Linked DNA regions of Homo sapiens. The protein of the gene in region 2 interacts with the protein of the main gene of each other region in a biochemical or structural test. Each region holds a gene or a part of one and is shown on either strand. Other genes may lie near its edges.

The links. Proteins that work in one complex are often made in the same cells at the same time.
Region 1: the proteins of PEX26 (region 2) and PEX14 form a complex in vitro, tested with the Homo sapiens proteins (one study listed by BioGRID).

The regions. Positions count from the first base shown.
Region 1 is NC_000001.11:10,477,811-10,485,163, forward strand, and holds part of PEX14 (peroxisomal membrane protein PEX14), read left to right. Parts: intron 1-6,682; exon of another isoform or gene 6,683-7,227; coding exon of another isoform or gene 7,228-7,305; intron 7,306-7,353. UniProt on the Homo sapiens protein: Component of the PEX13-PEX14 docking complex, a translocon channel that specifically mediates the import of peroxisomal cargo proteins bound to PEX5 receptor.
Region 2 is NC_000022.11:18,072,959-18,081,012, reverse strand, and holds the start of PEX26 (peroxisome assembly protein 26), read right to left. Parts: upstream 3,024-8,054; 5' UTR 2,637-3,023; coding exon 2,407-2,636; intron 1,140-2,406; coding exon 999-1,139; intron 1-998. UniProt on the Homo sapiens protein: Peroxisomal docking factor that anchors PEX1 and PEX6 to peroxisome membranes. PEX26 is therefore required for the formation of the PEX1-PEX6 AAA ATPase complex, a complex that mediates the extraction of the PEX5 receptor from peroxisomal membrane.

The sequences.
Region 1 (7,353 bases), on a different chromosome or scaffold from region 2:
TAATTTCTCCATGTGCAAAACAGGGAAAATACTAGGACCTATCTCACAGAGTTGCTCTGAGGACTAAATGAGTTATTTATTTATTTATTTATTTTTGAGACCGAGTCTCACTCTGTTGACCAGGCTGGAGTGCAGTGGCGCGATCTCGGCTTACTGCAACCTCCGCCTCCCAGGTTCAAGTGATTCTCCTGCCTCAGCCTCCCAAGTAGCTGGGGCTACAGGTATGCACCACCAGGCCTGGCTAATTTTTTTTTTTAAGTAGAAATGGGGTTTCACCATATTGGACAAGCTGGTCTCAAACTCCTGACCTCAGGTAACCTGCCCACCTCGGCCTCCCAAAGAGCTTGGTATTACAGGCGTGAGCCACTGCACCTGGCCTTAAATGAGTTATTTATGTAAAAATGCCAGAACAGTGCCTGAAACAATGTGTTGTCTATTATTATTATTATTCAATTTAATAAGCTCTGAGTTTTCACTCACAAATGGATCTAAACCTTTCTTCAAGTTCTATTACGACATCTTTTGGGGTATGATTTTTCATGTGTTGACTACTTGTCTAGTAAAGTTCTTTTATTCAGAAGTAATTCCTTAAAATTTCAAGGAATGCCCTGAATGCTAGTGTTTATTCTAGCTGTCCTTCATGACTTTTGCATTTCAGGAACATACTTACTTTTTCATAATGGTATAGTCTTTTTAGTCTATCCTCAAGACGACTTGCTGGAATTTCATTTATTGCTTCCTTTGTTCTGTGTTCCCCACATTGCTCTGTTTTATGTGGTTGATCTATTGATTGAGACAGGGTCTCACTCTGTCACCAGAGTGCGGTGGTGTGATCATGGCTCACTGCATCCTTGCCCGCCCAGGCTCAGGCAATCCTTTCGTCTCAGCCTCCTGAGTAACCGGGACTACAGGTGTGCACCACCATGCCTGGCTAATGTATTTTTTTTTTTTTTGAGACAGAGTCTCGCTCTGTCGCCCAGGCTGGAGTGCAGTGGTGCGATCTCAACTCACTGCAAGCTCCGCCTCTCGGGTTCGAACCATTCTCCTGCCTCAGCCTCCAGAGTAGCTGGGACTACAGGCACCTGCCACCACGCCCGGCTATTTTTTTTTTATTTCATTTTTAGTAGAGACGATGTTTCACCGTATTAGCCAGGATGGTCTCGATCTCCTGACCTCGTGATCCGCCCACCTCGGCCTCCCAAAGTGCTGGGATTACAGGTGTGAGCCACTGTGCCTGGCCTGGCTAATGTATTTTTAAAACAATTTTTGTAGTGGTGAGTTCCTGGCTGGGCGTGATGGCTCATACCTGTAATCTTAGCACTTTGGGAGGCTGAGTTGGGAGGATCGCTTGAGGCCAGGAGTTTGAGACCAGCCTTTGCAATATAGGGAGACCTCGTTCCTACTGAAAATTAAAAAATTAGCCAGGCATGGTAGTGCTTGCCTGTGGTTCCAGCTACTTTGGAGGCTGAGGTGAGAGCATCACTTGGGCCTGGGAGGTTGAGGCTGCAGTGAGCGGTGATTGTGCCATTGCCCTCCAGCCTGGGTGAGAGAGCAATACCCTGTTTGGGGACGGGGGAAGAGACAGAGAGAGAGAAAGTGCTGAGATTATAAGCATGAGCCACCACGCCCAGCCAGCATGGCTGATCTCTCATTGAAGTCCTTTCTAGTGTGTACACGTTGGAGCCCGTAGGAATGAGAAACGTTATCTCTATTTCCCAACTTTCCTACTAGCTTTTCTTCCTTCGCTGAACAGCAGAGGCATGGTTCAATCTGATTACTTCACAGTTACTGAGTATCGAGTATTATTGCAGAAGGTAGATTTCCTATCTGTGGAGGTTCACTGGGTACAGTAAATTTTGCATTGAGAGGCTACAGAAGCAGGCAGGGAGAAGAGCAGAGTGAAAGAGTGGAAGAGCATGGCTTCGCATCCTGGCAGGTTTTGGTGGAACTTCATCACTCACAACTATTGGACTTATCACTCCACCTTTCTGAGTATGTTTTCTCCTCTGTAAAACGAGAGCAATAATAGTTACCCTTAAAGCTGGGTGTGGTGGTGCATGTCTGTAGTTCCAGCTACTCAGGAGACTGAGGCTGGAGGATTGCTTGAGCCCAGGAGTTGGAGTCTGTAGTGCACGATGATCACATATGTGAATAAACCCCTGTACTCCAGCCTGGGCAACAGAGTGCAACCCTATCACTTAAAAAATAAATAAATAAAATAAAAAATAATTACCCTTTTAGTGTTGACTGAAATCACAGATGTGAAGAGCACCTGCTGCATAGTAAGTGCTCAGAGTTAGTTTTCTTCTCCCAGTCTTTACATGTAGTTTTGAGAGTCTGTTGAACTCTTGAATAACAGCAGGTCAGACAAGGTATTTGCCCTCTCAATGTTTTTTTTTTTTGTTTTGTTTTGTTTTTGAGATGGAGTCTCCCTCTGTTGCCCAGGCTGGAGTACAGTGGCTCAATCTCGGCTCACTGCAACCTCAGCCTCCCAGGTTCAAGCGGTTCTCCTGCTTCACCTGCCTCAGCCTCCTGAGTAGCTGAGACTACAGGTGTGTGCCACTACGCCTGGCTAACTTTTTTTTTTTTTTTTTTTTTTTTGAGACGGAGTCTTGCTCTGTCTCCCGATCTGGAGTACAGTGGCACAATCTCGGCTCACTGCAACCTCTGCCTCCTGGGTTCAAGCGATTCTCCTGTCTCAGCCTCCTGAGTAGCTGGGACTACAGGTGCCCGCCACCATGCCCAGCTAATTTTTTTGTATTTTTAGTAGAGATGGGGTTTTGCCATGTTGGCCAGGCTAGTCTTGAATGCTTGACCTCAGGTGATCCACCTGCCTCGGCCTCCCACAGTGTTGGGATTACAGGTGTGAGCCTGGCACCTGGCCTCAACTTTTTATTTTGAAAAATTTCTCACGTATAGAAAAGTTGAAAGGATAATACTGAGAACTTCTGTAAAATTCCCATAAAAACTTAACCAAGATGCACTGTTCACATTTTGCTGAATTTGCTTTATGTCAGTCTCTCTCTCTCTTTCTCTCTCTCTCTCTCTCTATATATATATTTTTTTTTTTGGAAGGATTTGTGGTAAGTTACAGACATCAAGGATATTTCATCCTAGAATATTTCACCTTATCTCTCATAAGAGTAAGGTTATTCCCCTGTATAACCACAATATCATTATCACACAAGAAATTTAAGTGTTGATAAATAGTATTATTTAAAACAGAATCTGCACTCAAATTTTCACACTTAAAAAAAATCAGAATCTAGTGAAGAAACAGAGATTGCATTGATTTGTCTCTTTAGTCTTTTTTTTTTTTCCTTTCCTTCCTTTTTTTTTTTGTTTGAGACAGAGTCTTGCTCTGTTGCCCAGGCTGGAGTGCAGTGGTGCAATCTTGGCTCACTACAACCTCCGCTTCCTGGGTTCAAGCAATTCTCCTGTCTCAGCTTCCCAAGTAGCTGGAATTACAGGTGCCCGCCACCATGCCTGGCTAATTTTTTTGTATTTTTAATAGAGACAGGGTTTTGCCATGTTGGCCGGGATGGTCTCGAACCCCTGACCTCAAGTGATCCACCCACCTCGGCCTCCCACAGTGCTGGGAGCCACCGCGTCCAGCCTTAAACTTTGTTTGTTTGTTTGTTTGTTTTTTGAGACAGGGTCTTACTCTGTCACCCAGTCTGGAGTGGAGAGGTGTTATCACAGCTCACTGTAGCCTTGACCTCCTGGGTTCAAGTGATCCTCCAGCCTCAGCCTCCCGAGTAGCTGGGACTATAGTCATGCACTATGATGCCCAGCTAATTATTTTTTGTAGAGGTCGGGTCTCGCTGTGTCGCCCAGGCTGGTCTTGAACTCCTGACCTCAAGTGAGCCTCCCACCTCAGTCTCCCAGGCTTCTTTTACTTAACACATATTTTTGAGATTCATTCATGATGAGAACAGTGACAGTTTATTATCACTGCTTTATACAGTTATTGTATGAATGTGTTTGGCCATTTATTATTAACCATTCTACTCTTTTTTTTTTTTTTTTTTGAGACAATGCCTGGCTCTGTTGCCCAGGCTGGAGTGCAGTGGTACGATTTCGGCTCACTGCAAACTGCTTCCCAGGCTCAAGCCATCCTCCTACCTCAGCTCCCCTGGTAGCTGGGACCACAGGCGCATGCCACCACACCTGGCTAATTATTTTTGTATTTTTTGTAGAGACGGGGTTTTGCCATGTTGCCCAGGCTGGTCTTGAACTCCTGAGCTCAACCAGTCTGCCCGTCTGGGCCTCCCAAAGTGCTGAGATTACCAGTGTGAGTGACCACATCTGGCCACCATTCTACTTTTTGTTTTTTGAGACTGAGTCTTGCTCTATCACCCAGGCTGGAGTGCAGTGGCATGATCTTGGCTCACTGCAACCTCTGCCTCCCAGGTTCAAGTGATTCTTCTGCCTCAGCCTCCTGAGTAACTGGGATTATAGGCACTGGCCACCATGCCTGGCTAATTTTTGTGTTTTTAGTAGAGACGGGGGATTCACCATGTTGGCCGGGCTGGTCTCGAACTCCTGACCTCAAGTGATCCACCTACCTTGGCCTCCCAAAGTGGTGGGATTATAGGCGTGAGCCCCTGCGGGTGGCCCATCTTACTTTTTTTTTTTTTTTTGAAATGGAGTCTCGCTCTGTCACCGGCTGGAGTGCAGTGGCGCAATCTCAGCTCACTGCAACCTCCGTCTCCCGGGTTCAGGTGATTCTTCTGCCTCAGCCTCCCAAGTAGCTGGGACTACAGGCATGTGCCACCATGCCCGGCTAATTTTTGTATTTTTAGTAGAGATGGGGTTTCTTCATGTTGGCCAGGATGGTCTCGATGTCTTGACCTCATGATCCACCTGCCTTGGCCTCCCAAAGTGCTGGGATTACAAGCATGAGCCACCGTGCCTGGCCTGAGCCATTCTACTTTTAATGGACATTAGATTGTTTCACCTTTAGGGTCATTACAAATAGTACTGCTGTGAAAATACCTGTACGTGTCTTTTTGTGAACATAATATGTGCATTTCTGGTGAGTTCATCTACGTTTTTTATTTTTTATGGTATTGACATGTTTGGAGAGTCTGGACTACTTGTTTTGTGAAATGTTCCACCATCTGGATTTGTCTGATTTGTTCCCTTACATTTAGATCCGGGTTAAACATTCTTTTGTGAGAATATTATGTAAGTGACGTTGTGTCTATCTGTGTATCATATCTGGAGGAACGAGTCCCATTGTCGAAGATGAAGTTTGATTGTTTGGTTAAGGTGGTGTCTATCACATTTCTCCATCATAAAGTTAACTTGCTAAATTAGTTGCTTTCTTTGCAACTTTGCTAGTATTGTTTTAAATTTTTGAGACAGGGTCTCACTCTGTCACCCTGGCTGGAGTGCAGTGGCACAGTCATGGCTCGCTGCAGTCGTGACCTCCTGGGCTCAAGTGATCCTCCTGCCTTGGCCTCCCAAAGTGCTAGGATTACAGGTGTGAACATGGCCAAGTTTTTCTTTTTTTCTTTCTTGAGATGGAGTCTTGCTCTGTCTCCAGGGTGGAGTGCAGTGGTATGATCTCGGCTTACTGCAATCTCCACTTCCCAGGTTCAAGCGATTCTCCCCCCTCAGCCTCCGGAGTAGCTGGGACTGCAGGTGTGCACCACCATGCCTGGCTAACTTTTTATATTTCAGTAGAGACGGGGTTTCACTATGTTGGCCAGGATGGTCTCAATCTCCTGACCTCATGATCCACCCGCCTCGGCCCCCCAAAGTGCTGGGATTATAGGCGTGAGCCACTGCGCCTGGCCTGGCCAAGTTTTTTTTTAGTATTTTAGTTTAATATTGTATTGACTGACAAAGTCTTATGGCCTAAACTTTACTGTGGAATTCTAATAGGTGTGTTGTGATCAGTTTGAGTTTTGACAAATTGTATATACGTGTGTAACCACTACCACCCTAAACCTGTGTAACCACCACTGCCACAAGCAAGATCAACAGTTTCAGTATCCCTAAACGTTCCCTTACGCCCCTTCCCATTGAATCCTTGCCTGTGGTCCTAGGAAATCTGAACTGTTTTCTATTACTATAGAGTATATTTGTCCCTCCTAGAATTTCATATGAATGAATTATGTATTCTTTTATGTCTTTTTTGGCTCAGAATAATGTTTGTGAAATTTATTTGTGTTATGGTATGTATCAGTAATTATCAGTAATGAATTACCTTTTTTTTTTTTTTTTTGAGATGGTATTTCGCTCTTGTTGCCCAGGTTGAAGTGAAGTGGCTCAGTCTTGGCTCACTGCAACCCCTGCCTCCTGGGTTCAAGAGATTCCCCTGCCCCAGCCTTCCAGTAGCTGGGATTACAGGCGCCCACCACCATGGCCGGCTAATTGGCTAATTTTTTTGAATTTTTAGTAGAGACAAGGTTTCACCATGTTGGCCAGAGTGGTCTTGAACCCCTGACCTCAAATGATTTGCCCACCTCGGCCTCCCAAAGTGCTGGGATTACATGTGTGAGTCACTGCGTCCAGCCAATTTTTTTTTGTTTAGTAGAGATGGGGTTTCACTGTGTTGGTCAGGCTGGTCTCCAACTCCTGACCTCATGTGATCCAACTGCCTTGGCCTCCCAATGTGTTGGGATTACAGGCGTGAGCCACTGCGCCTGACCATGAATTACTTTTTACCGCTGAGTAGTATTCCATCGTATGGATGGCTATATCTCAATTTGTTGATCTGTTCACCAGTTGATGGACATTTGTAGTAGTTTTTGATTCCTGCGTAACAGTATTACCACAAATTTAGCCGCTTGGCACAGCACACATTGATTATCTCATGGTTTCTGTGGGTCAGGAGTCAGGAAACCACTGGGCTGAGTCTCACCAGGCTACTATTGAGAAATCTGTCAGGACTGTGGTCGCTGACTAGGGAGGGGTCTGCTTCCTAGCTTGTGTGGTTGTTGGTGGCATTCAGTTCCTTATGGACCATGAGACTGGAGACTTTAGTGTGTTACTGTCAGCCAGCGGCCGCCCTCAGTTTCTTGCCAAATGAGTCTTCCCACTTGCCTCCTCAAAGCCAGCAGAAGAGAGAGTCTCTTAGTAAAGTGGACATTACCACGACGTATCTCACCCACATTAATGCAGTCACGTACATGCTGTCACCTTTGCCATATTGTGTTGGCCAGAAGCAAGTAACAGATCCTGGCCACATTTGAGTAGAAGGAACAGCACAGGGGCATGGATACCAGGAGGTGGGGATCATGGGGTCACCTTAGAGTCTGTTCCCCACAGGATTCCTTCTCATTCTGGGCTACTGTGAGTATTTGTGTATGTGTAAGTGTTTGCGAGGACATATTCTTCATT
Region 2 (8,054 bases):
TTAAAAAAAAAAAAAAGTTGATATCATAGAAGCAGACGGTAGAACGGTGGTTACCAGAGACTGGGAAAGGAAGGAAGAAAAGGAAGACGGGAAGAGGTTCGTCAATGGGTACAAAGTTACGGTGGGATAGGAGGAATAAGTTGTGGTGTTCTATTGCACGGTAGGGTGGTTATGGTTAACAGTAAGGTATTGTATATATAAAATAGCCGGAAGAGAGGCTTTTGAATGTTCCTGTCACAAACAAATGATAAATGCATGAGGTGATGGATATGCTAACTACCCTGATTTGATCATTATACAACATATACACAGCATATATTGAAATGTCTAATTTACCCCATAAATATGTACAAGTGTCAATTTTAAAAACTTTGTTATTTTTTGGCCAGGGGCGATGGCTCACATCTGTAATCCCAGCACTTTGGGATGCCGAGGCAGGTGGATCACGAGGTCAGGAGATTGAGACCATCCTGGCTAACACGGTAAAACCCTGTCTCTACTTAAAACACAAAAAAATTAGCCGGGCGTGGTGGCAGGCGCCTGTAGTCCCAGCTACTCGGGAGGCTGAGGCAGGAGAATGGTGTGAACCCGGGAGGTGGAGCTTGCAGTGAGCAGAGACTGTGCCACTGCACTCCAACCTGGGCGACAGGGCGAGACTCCGTCTCAAAAAACAAAACAAAACAAAACAAAACAAAATTTTTTTTTAAGAATTAGGAATTCCTAGGACGTAGCAAGCTGCTCTTTCAGCTCTGTCCACTCTGTCATCCCACGTCGCTCCTATTCCCTGTTTCCTCCCTTCTTTATATCTATTCTACTCCTAAATTCCTCCCCCTTATTCTTTATTGCTATGTATGGAAGTCTGGGGAAAAAAAAGTGAAGGGAAAGAATCCGATCTGGAGGGCAATAGTAGGGAAGGGGAAAAGAGTAGGTATTTAGGAGAGGAGATGAAAATCCTCTCGTTTCTGAACCGATCTGATGAGTCAGCAAAGAAGACTTACCACAGCTCCAGGACTTTGGGGGGTAGCTTTTCAGGGACCTGGTAATACTGAAGGACCCAGGAGAGGACTTCTTGCCACCGATCCATTTCTGCCAGGGCCTGGATCCCCACAACACACAGGGAGCACTTCACCTCCAATGAGCTGTCAGCAGAAAAACCAATTTCAGTTAGAAGTGGTTCCCCTCCATTTCCATTCCCACCTCCACCTTGGGACTGTTCCTCTCCAGCTCCCAACTCAGCAGCCATCATCTCTCTCATCCCTGTTAGTATTTAGATGGGCTTCACAATTGGTCTCATGGGCTGCCCTTTCCCCCAGGAACTAAAAGTTCCTGTAACCCTCTTTCAAGAGGCAAGTCAGCTGTTGCTCAACGTTCATCTTTGTATCCAGGTGAAATCAGATTTAAATGAAGAGGAAGGGTAATCCTGAGGGGGAAATAACACACAGCACCGGTGTGTGGCTGAAAAGAGAGCTGGAACTAAGAGTTTGCTCTGTGAACAAATGGGCTTGGAGCAAGGTTTCTGGCTGAGTGGAGGTATAGACTCCATAGCTGGCTAAAAGGCACCACCTAGTAAGGTTCCTCCAGACACCCAGAAGCAAAGCCTTCTGCATTCACTGAAATGAGCTCCCACCCAGTCCCCTAAAACACAGCCAGGGCTCTCCAGATCATCCTTCTTTGTGGTCAACTTTAGCTATTCTACCTACCACCTCCCTAGCGTGGCCTAACCCAAGTTTACAATGCAAAGAAATGACTCCCTCACCTGCCAGACGAGGCTGGTGGCATTAGAAAGAGCAATGCAAGCCCAAGGTTTTTTTCTCCGGATTCTTTTCTTTTTCTTCTTTTTGGTAGAGAAGAGGGCTCATTATGTTACCCAGGCTGGTCTCGAACTCCTGGGCTCAAGCAATCCTCCTGCCTCGGCCTCCCAAAGTGCTGGGATTACAGGCGTAAGCCCCAGCTCCCGGCCCTGAATTAATTCTTTAATCCAGTCCTCTAATTGGACCAGAACGCTGCTCCTGCCATGACCCCCATTCCCCATCATCAGCCAAGGTCAGGAATAAACAACCTTGGGCGGGGCGGGGAGGGCGGAGGTACCTGGGAGAGGACTTTTACCACCTGCTTACTGACAGAACTTAGCACTTAATACACATTCAGCCTTCCCATCATGTCATTGTACCTTGGAACAAGGAGCAAATAATTGGCTGTGGGATCCCCACTAAGTTTTTGTTACACGACTTCCCTTCTCTGTAGAATGGGCACACGATGAGCGACCACCCTCTCGGAGACAAACCACTGATGAAAGCGAGGTGTAAAGCTCCTTGTGGGCAATCTGGGAAGGACAGAACTCCTGAGACCTTGAGCCCCACCACAAGAGCGCCCGGAAATCGGTTCATTTCCGAGCCCAGCACGTACGTGCCCGCGGGTTCCTCTGCCACGGCGTGGTTGGCCAGACTCTGCCAGGCCCGCTCGCAGGTCTCCAGCGCCGCCCGGAAGTCCAGGTGCACCACCAGGAGGTCGGCCGCCTCCTCCAGAAGGTCCACGGCCGGCGCCCGGGCCGGGACCGCGCGCACCGGCTCGCTGCTGCGCAGGGGTCCCCCGAGCCCCCTGAGGGGGGCTGCAGAGGTCGAAGAATCGCTCTTCATAACGAGTCCGGGTCCAAGGCCCAGGTCCTCAGACGTCGGAGTGACCGCCTCCCCAGAGGCTCCGGGATATCCCGAGTTGGCCTGGGCGAAGAGGGAGAGTCCTCATCTCTTTGCCCACACCCCTTCCCGAGGTCGATTCCCCGAGAAGGAAAAGGAAGGGGCCTATCTGAGGCAAAAGCTGGGCTCGCCTGGAGGCTGGGGAAGCAGTTTACACGTCAGATTTGCAGGATTCTTGCATCCCTGGAATACCTGGCCCTAGCTTCTCCGGCCCCGCGACACGTGCAGGAACTGCCTCAGCTCCGGGCTCCTGGTTACGATCAAAGACTCACCTCGCCTCCCGGCAGCGGGCGCGGACATCTTTGCGCTCGCCCAGCCCCGCAGCCGCGCGGCGTCCCGGCGGCGCGGAGTACTCTAGGAGTTGTAGTTCCTCAGCTCTCGGCCCATCGCCTTCTGTAATGGAAGTAGGAGGCAGAGCGCGGACTACAACCCCCAGCACGCCGCGCCCCGGAAGCCGCCCCTGTGCCGTGAGAAAACAAACTGGTGCTACAGCTTCGGGGTGCGGAAGTCAAAACGAAGCAAAACCGAAGCTGTCTTGTGAAATGGAGGGGTCCTCACTAACCAGTTCCAGCGGAGGCTAACGGAAGAAGTGCCAGCAATGGATGTGCAGCTACATGCACGCTTTTAATTCAGAGCTTCTGCGACGGTGGCGATCAGGGGATCTGTAATGTAATGTAATGTCAAGGCTGACGCAGAGCTGATCAAACATTTTGGCAACCTTAGTCTTGAATTGATTCACACTTTCTCCGCGTTGCCTCCGGAGTTTGCTGTAGGGTAATGAATATTGCCTGGTGAGGATGAGGGACTTAGGGTGGAAACCTTCACAAGGACCACTGAGAATATGTTGGTCCCAAGGGCAATGTTCCAAAATGAATAGTGACCCCACCGAGGCGGGGTTGGGGGCGCTGAGCATAAGGGCCTCATTTTTCTCACTGCTCTCTGCCCCATCCTGAATTTGCTGTTAAAAAACAACGTTAAATGCAGATACCAATTCCACTTCCCCACTGTTGTCACTTCCGATCTGTCTTTATATTTCTCCTTATCATTTATCACCATCTACATACCAATGTCTATATTTTACTTATTTTTATTGTCTATTTCCTTCCACTATGATATAAACTCACAAAGGCAGACGTTTTTGTCTCTTTTGTTCACTGTGGGAACCTCAATGCCTTGAACAGTGCCTGTCATCTATAGGTAGTCAAAAAGTATTTGTGGAATAAATGAAGTCCTGGTTTCACTTTTATCTGGTTACAGGGTCCAGACTTCTCTTTCCTCGGAGTCTGGTGGACTTGGTTCTGCCTCAGCTTCCCATGCAGACTTTTCTGCAAGAGAACGGAAATCCCAGAAGATGGATGTGTGCATGTCTGGTGACAAGGGCAGGGGATGTATGATGTGAGCAGGTGCCTGTTTAATCTAATTTCTAGGAGAGCAAAGATTCTAGGGAAGCTTTGGAGTGAATTCAAAGGGTAGAGAACTGGGGAGAAACTAAAGCCAAGAGGATCTAGTACAAATGTGGGAAGCTTGGCAAAGCCCGGGTGAAACAGAATATAATAATAAGTGTGATTTGTGGATCTGTTTAAAATTATTATTATAGTTACAATTTACCAAATACTCTGTTCCCAGTACTTTACTATAAAGTGCATTATGTACGGTATGGTTTTGTTTTTCACAATGTCCTTATTTTACATTGTGTAACTTGCTCATGGAATGACTGTGTATCCCCTGAATAGCAAACATACTTAGTTCTGTCCCTGCAGAGCAGAGTAGAGCTCAATACACATCTTTGAACCAAAAGAGCCTCGGTTTGACTGAGATTTTGTCGCTTACTAGTTGTGTGACCTCGGCAATTTATTTAAATAAGCTCTGATTTCCTCACCTGTAAAATTGGGATAACAGTTTGTCCTTAGCTCCCAATGGCTGAGGGAAGAATTAAGTAATATTGCGCATAAAGCGCCATGCGCATTAAGCACTGAAAATGTGAGCCAGGCCTGGGAAGACGAACATGCTCAGAAGCGGCCAGCTCTAAGCGGCTGCTGCCTGGAAAAGTCCCTTTCCTAACAAATTTCTTGCTATTCCAAATTTGTCCAGGAGATGGAGGCACAGTCTTAACAGAAGCAGCCTTGCTAAAAGTAAATTTGCCTATTTAGTAGTGAGACAGCCAGAATGAGGTCAAGATATTTAAGGCAGGAGAGAGGAGAGCTAGAAACCATATAAAAATATGATTGTATTCCATTTCTGATTCACCCAATTTTCAACTATTCCCGGGCTTCATATCAGTCCGTATGTAACCACTGTTTAGCACTATTATGCCCACAAATGGATTCCTCAACACACATCCAGTGGGACACATCATCTCCTCTATGTCTACAAGTACTTAGACTTTCTCAAGCGAAGACACAGAAATCCTAAACAGAAGCGAATTCATTCCCTCTGGGGGAACATAAATGCGTATTGTCTTTACTTAGCCAAACTTCTGTCTCTAAGTTGGAGCTCATGGGACAGCCTTTGAAATCATCTCTTCTGTCATTTCCTCATCTTTGAGACAAAAAACACAGTGGAAATAAGGACAGTCCTTTCAGATGTATAAGGCCAGGCCCATATTAATATTTGTATTGTTTGAATAGTTTTATTTTGGGAAAACTGGCAGAGCACCTGAGATGCCAGTATCCTCGTTACAACCCCTTCCCTAGCCCTACCTAGGCTCTGGAACTTGGGGTTGTTCCTTCCATTTGGCAGAGGGCTCAGTGTGGCTCCTTGCCTGAGGAGGCAGATTTGCTCAGCCTGCTGTAGCAGGGGATGAGTTGTTGTTTTTGTAGCAGAAAGCACACTGGACTGGAGATGAGAGGCATGGCTAGAATCCTGGTTCCTTCAGGTGGGGCACAGTGGTTCATGCCTGTAATCCCAGCACTTTGGGAGGCCAAGGCAGGAGGATTGCTTGAGCTCAGGCATTCAAGACCAGCCTGGGCAACATGGTGAAACCCTGTCTCTACAAAAATTAGCCAGGCGTGGTGGAGCACGCCTATAGTCTCAGCTGCGCAGAAGGCTGAGGTGAGAGGATGGGTTGAGCCCAGGAGGTCGAGGCTGCAGTAAGCTGAGATACACCACTACACTCCAGCCTGGGCGACAGAGTGAGACCTTGCCTCAAATAAAATAAATAAAAATTTTTAAAAAATAAAAAAGAATCCTGGTTCCTTCAGTGACAAAGCCAGGTGACCTCTAGAAAGTCACCATACTTCTTTGTGCCTCAGTTGTCTCATCTGAGGACACTAATACTAACACCTGCTGCATAGGGTGGCTGTGAAGAGCAGAAGAAACCATGTGACAGCCCATTGAACACTTGTCAATCACTGGACTCGTTCAGGCTGATGTAAGGCAAGAAAGAAGAAAGAATCTCAGCCCAGCGCGGTGGCTCATGCCTGTAATTCCAGCACTTTAGGGGGCCGAGGTGGGCAGATCACTTGAGGCCAGGAGTTCAAGACTAGCTTGGCCAACATGGTGAAAAACCATCTATACTAAAAGTACAAAAGTTAGGCAGGCATGGTGGTGTCCACCTGTAGTCCCAGCTGTTCAGGAGGCTGAGGCATGAGAATGTCTTGAATCTGGGAGGCCTCCGCAGTTGCAGTGAGCCAAGATTGGGCCACTGCACTCCACCCTGGGCAACAGACCAAGACTCTGCCTCAATTTAAAAAAAAGAAGAAGAAAGAATCTCATAGCACTCCGAAGTTCTGTAATATTACTTTCTGACCTAGAATCCAATTCTTTTTTTTTTTTTTTTTTTGAGACAGGGTCTCGCTTTGTCGCCTAGGCTGGAGTGCAGTGGTGCGATCTCGGCTCACTCACAGCCTCTGCCTCCCGGGCTCAAGTGATTCTCCTGCCTCAGCCACCCGAGTAGCTGGGATTACAGTTGCATGCCACCATGCCCAGCTCATTTTTGTATTCTTAGTAGAGACAGGATTTCTCCATGTTCTCCAGGCTGGTCTCAAACTCCTGACCTCAAGCCATCCACCTGCCTCAGCCTCCCAAAGTGCTGGGACTACAGGTGTGAGCCACCGTGCCCAGCCCTGGAATCCAATTATTGACTCTTCCATGCAAAAATCAAAAATGCCCACATCTGGCTGGGCACAGTGACTCATGCCTGTAATCCTAGCACTTTGGGAGGCCAAGGCAGGAGGATCACTTGAGCCTAGGACTTTGAGACCAGCCTGGGCAGCATAGCAAGACCCCATCTCTATTGAAAAATGTTTTCTAATTAGCTGGTCATGGTGGCACGTGCCTATAGTCCCAGCTACTTGAGAGGCTAAGGCAGGAGGATCGCTTGAGCCCAGGAGTTCAAGGCTGCAGTAAACTATGATGCGCCACTGCACTCAATCCTTCAAGCCTGGGTGACAGAGCAAGACCCTTTCTCAAAAAATAAAAATGAAAAGCCTACATCTGACGTCAACCTAGCCTGTCTTGCCTTCTCCACACTGGTTCCACATTTCAGGCCAATAAACAGCATCCACAGCTGTCCCTTCGAACATCCCAACCAGCCAGAGCCCCTCAGTACAGGGACATCTGTGGCAAAGCTCTGCATGCAATAGGTTCAGACCAAGTGTGGACCTTTGGCCAGAAGCGAGCCAAGGAGATAAGTATAGGTAGGGTGGAGATGATGTTTTTCCAGGATGGTCAAGGCACACCTCCCTTGCTCCAGAGGCTCATCAGTGGGATGGCATTTTTATGGCTCTTTTTTAAAGCCTGGACTAGGAGTTCAGGGCAGAACTCAATGCTTCCTATAGTGTTCCTCTCCTTGTAGACACAGCAGAACTCTGCTTCTGTATCTAAGAAGTGACCATCATAATCATCCTGTATAGTACTTTACAACAATAATAGTGATGGCTCAATTTATATGGTATGATATTAACTATGCACTAGGTGCTTTTCTGAGTGCTTTATTTATTTGTTTATTTATTTATTTATTTATTTAAGACAGGGTCTCTCTGTGTTGCTCAGGCTGGAGTGCACTGGTGCCATCACAGCTCACTGCAGCCTCAACCTCCCGGGCTCAAGCAATCCTTGTAACTCAGCCTCTAAGTAGCTGGGACTACAGGCACATGCCACCACGCCTGGATAATTTTTAAATTTTTTGTAGAGATGGGGTCTCACTATGTTGACCAGCTTGTCTTGAACTCCTGGGCTCAAGCAATCTTGCTGCCTCAGCCTCCCAAAGTGCTGGGATTACAGGTGTGAGCCACCACGCCTGGCCTGAGTGCTTTACATTTAACTCATTTGAATCCTCATAACCATATGATGAAAGTCCTAGTCTCATTCTTATTTTGTAAAGGAAGAAACTGAGTTATAGGGAGGTTAAATAACTTGTCC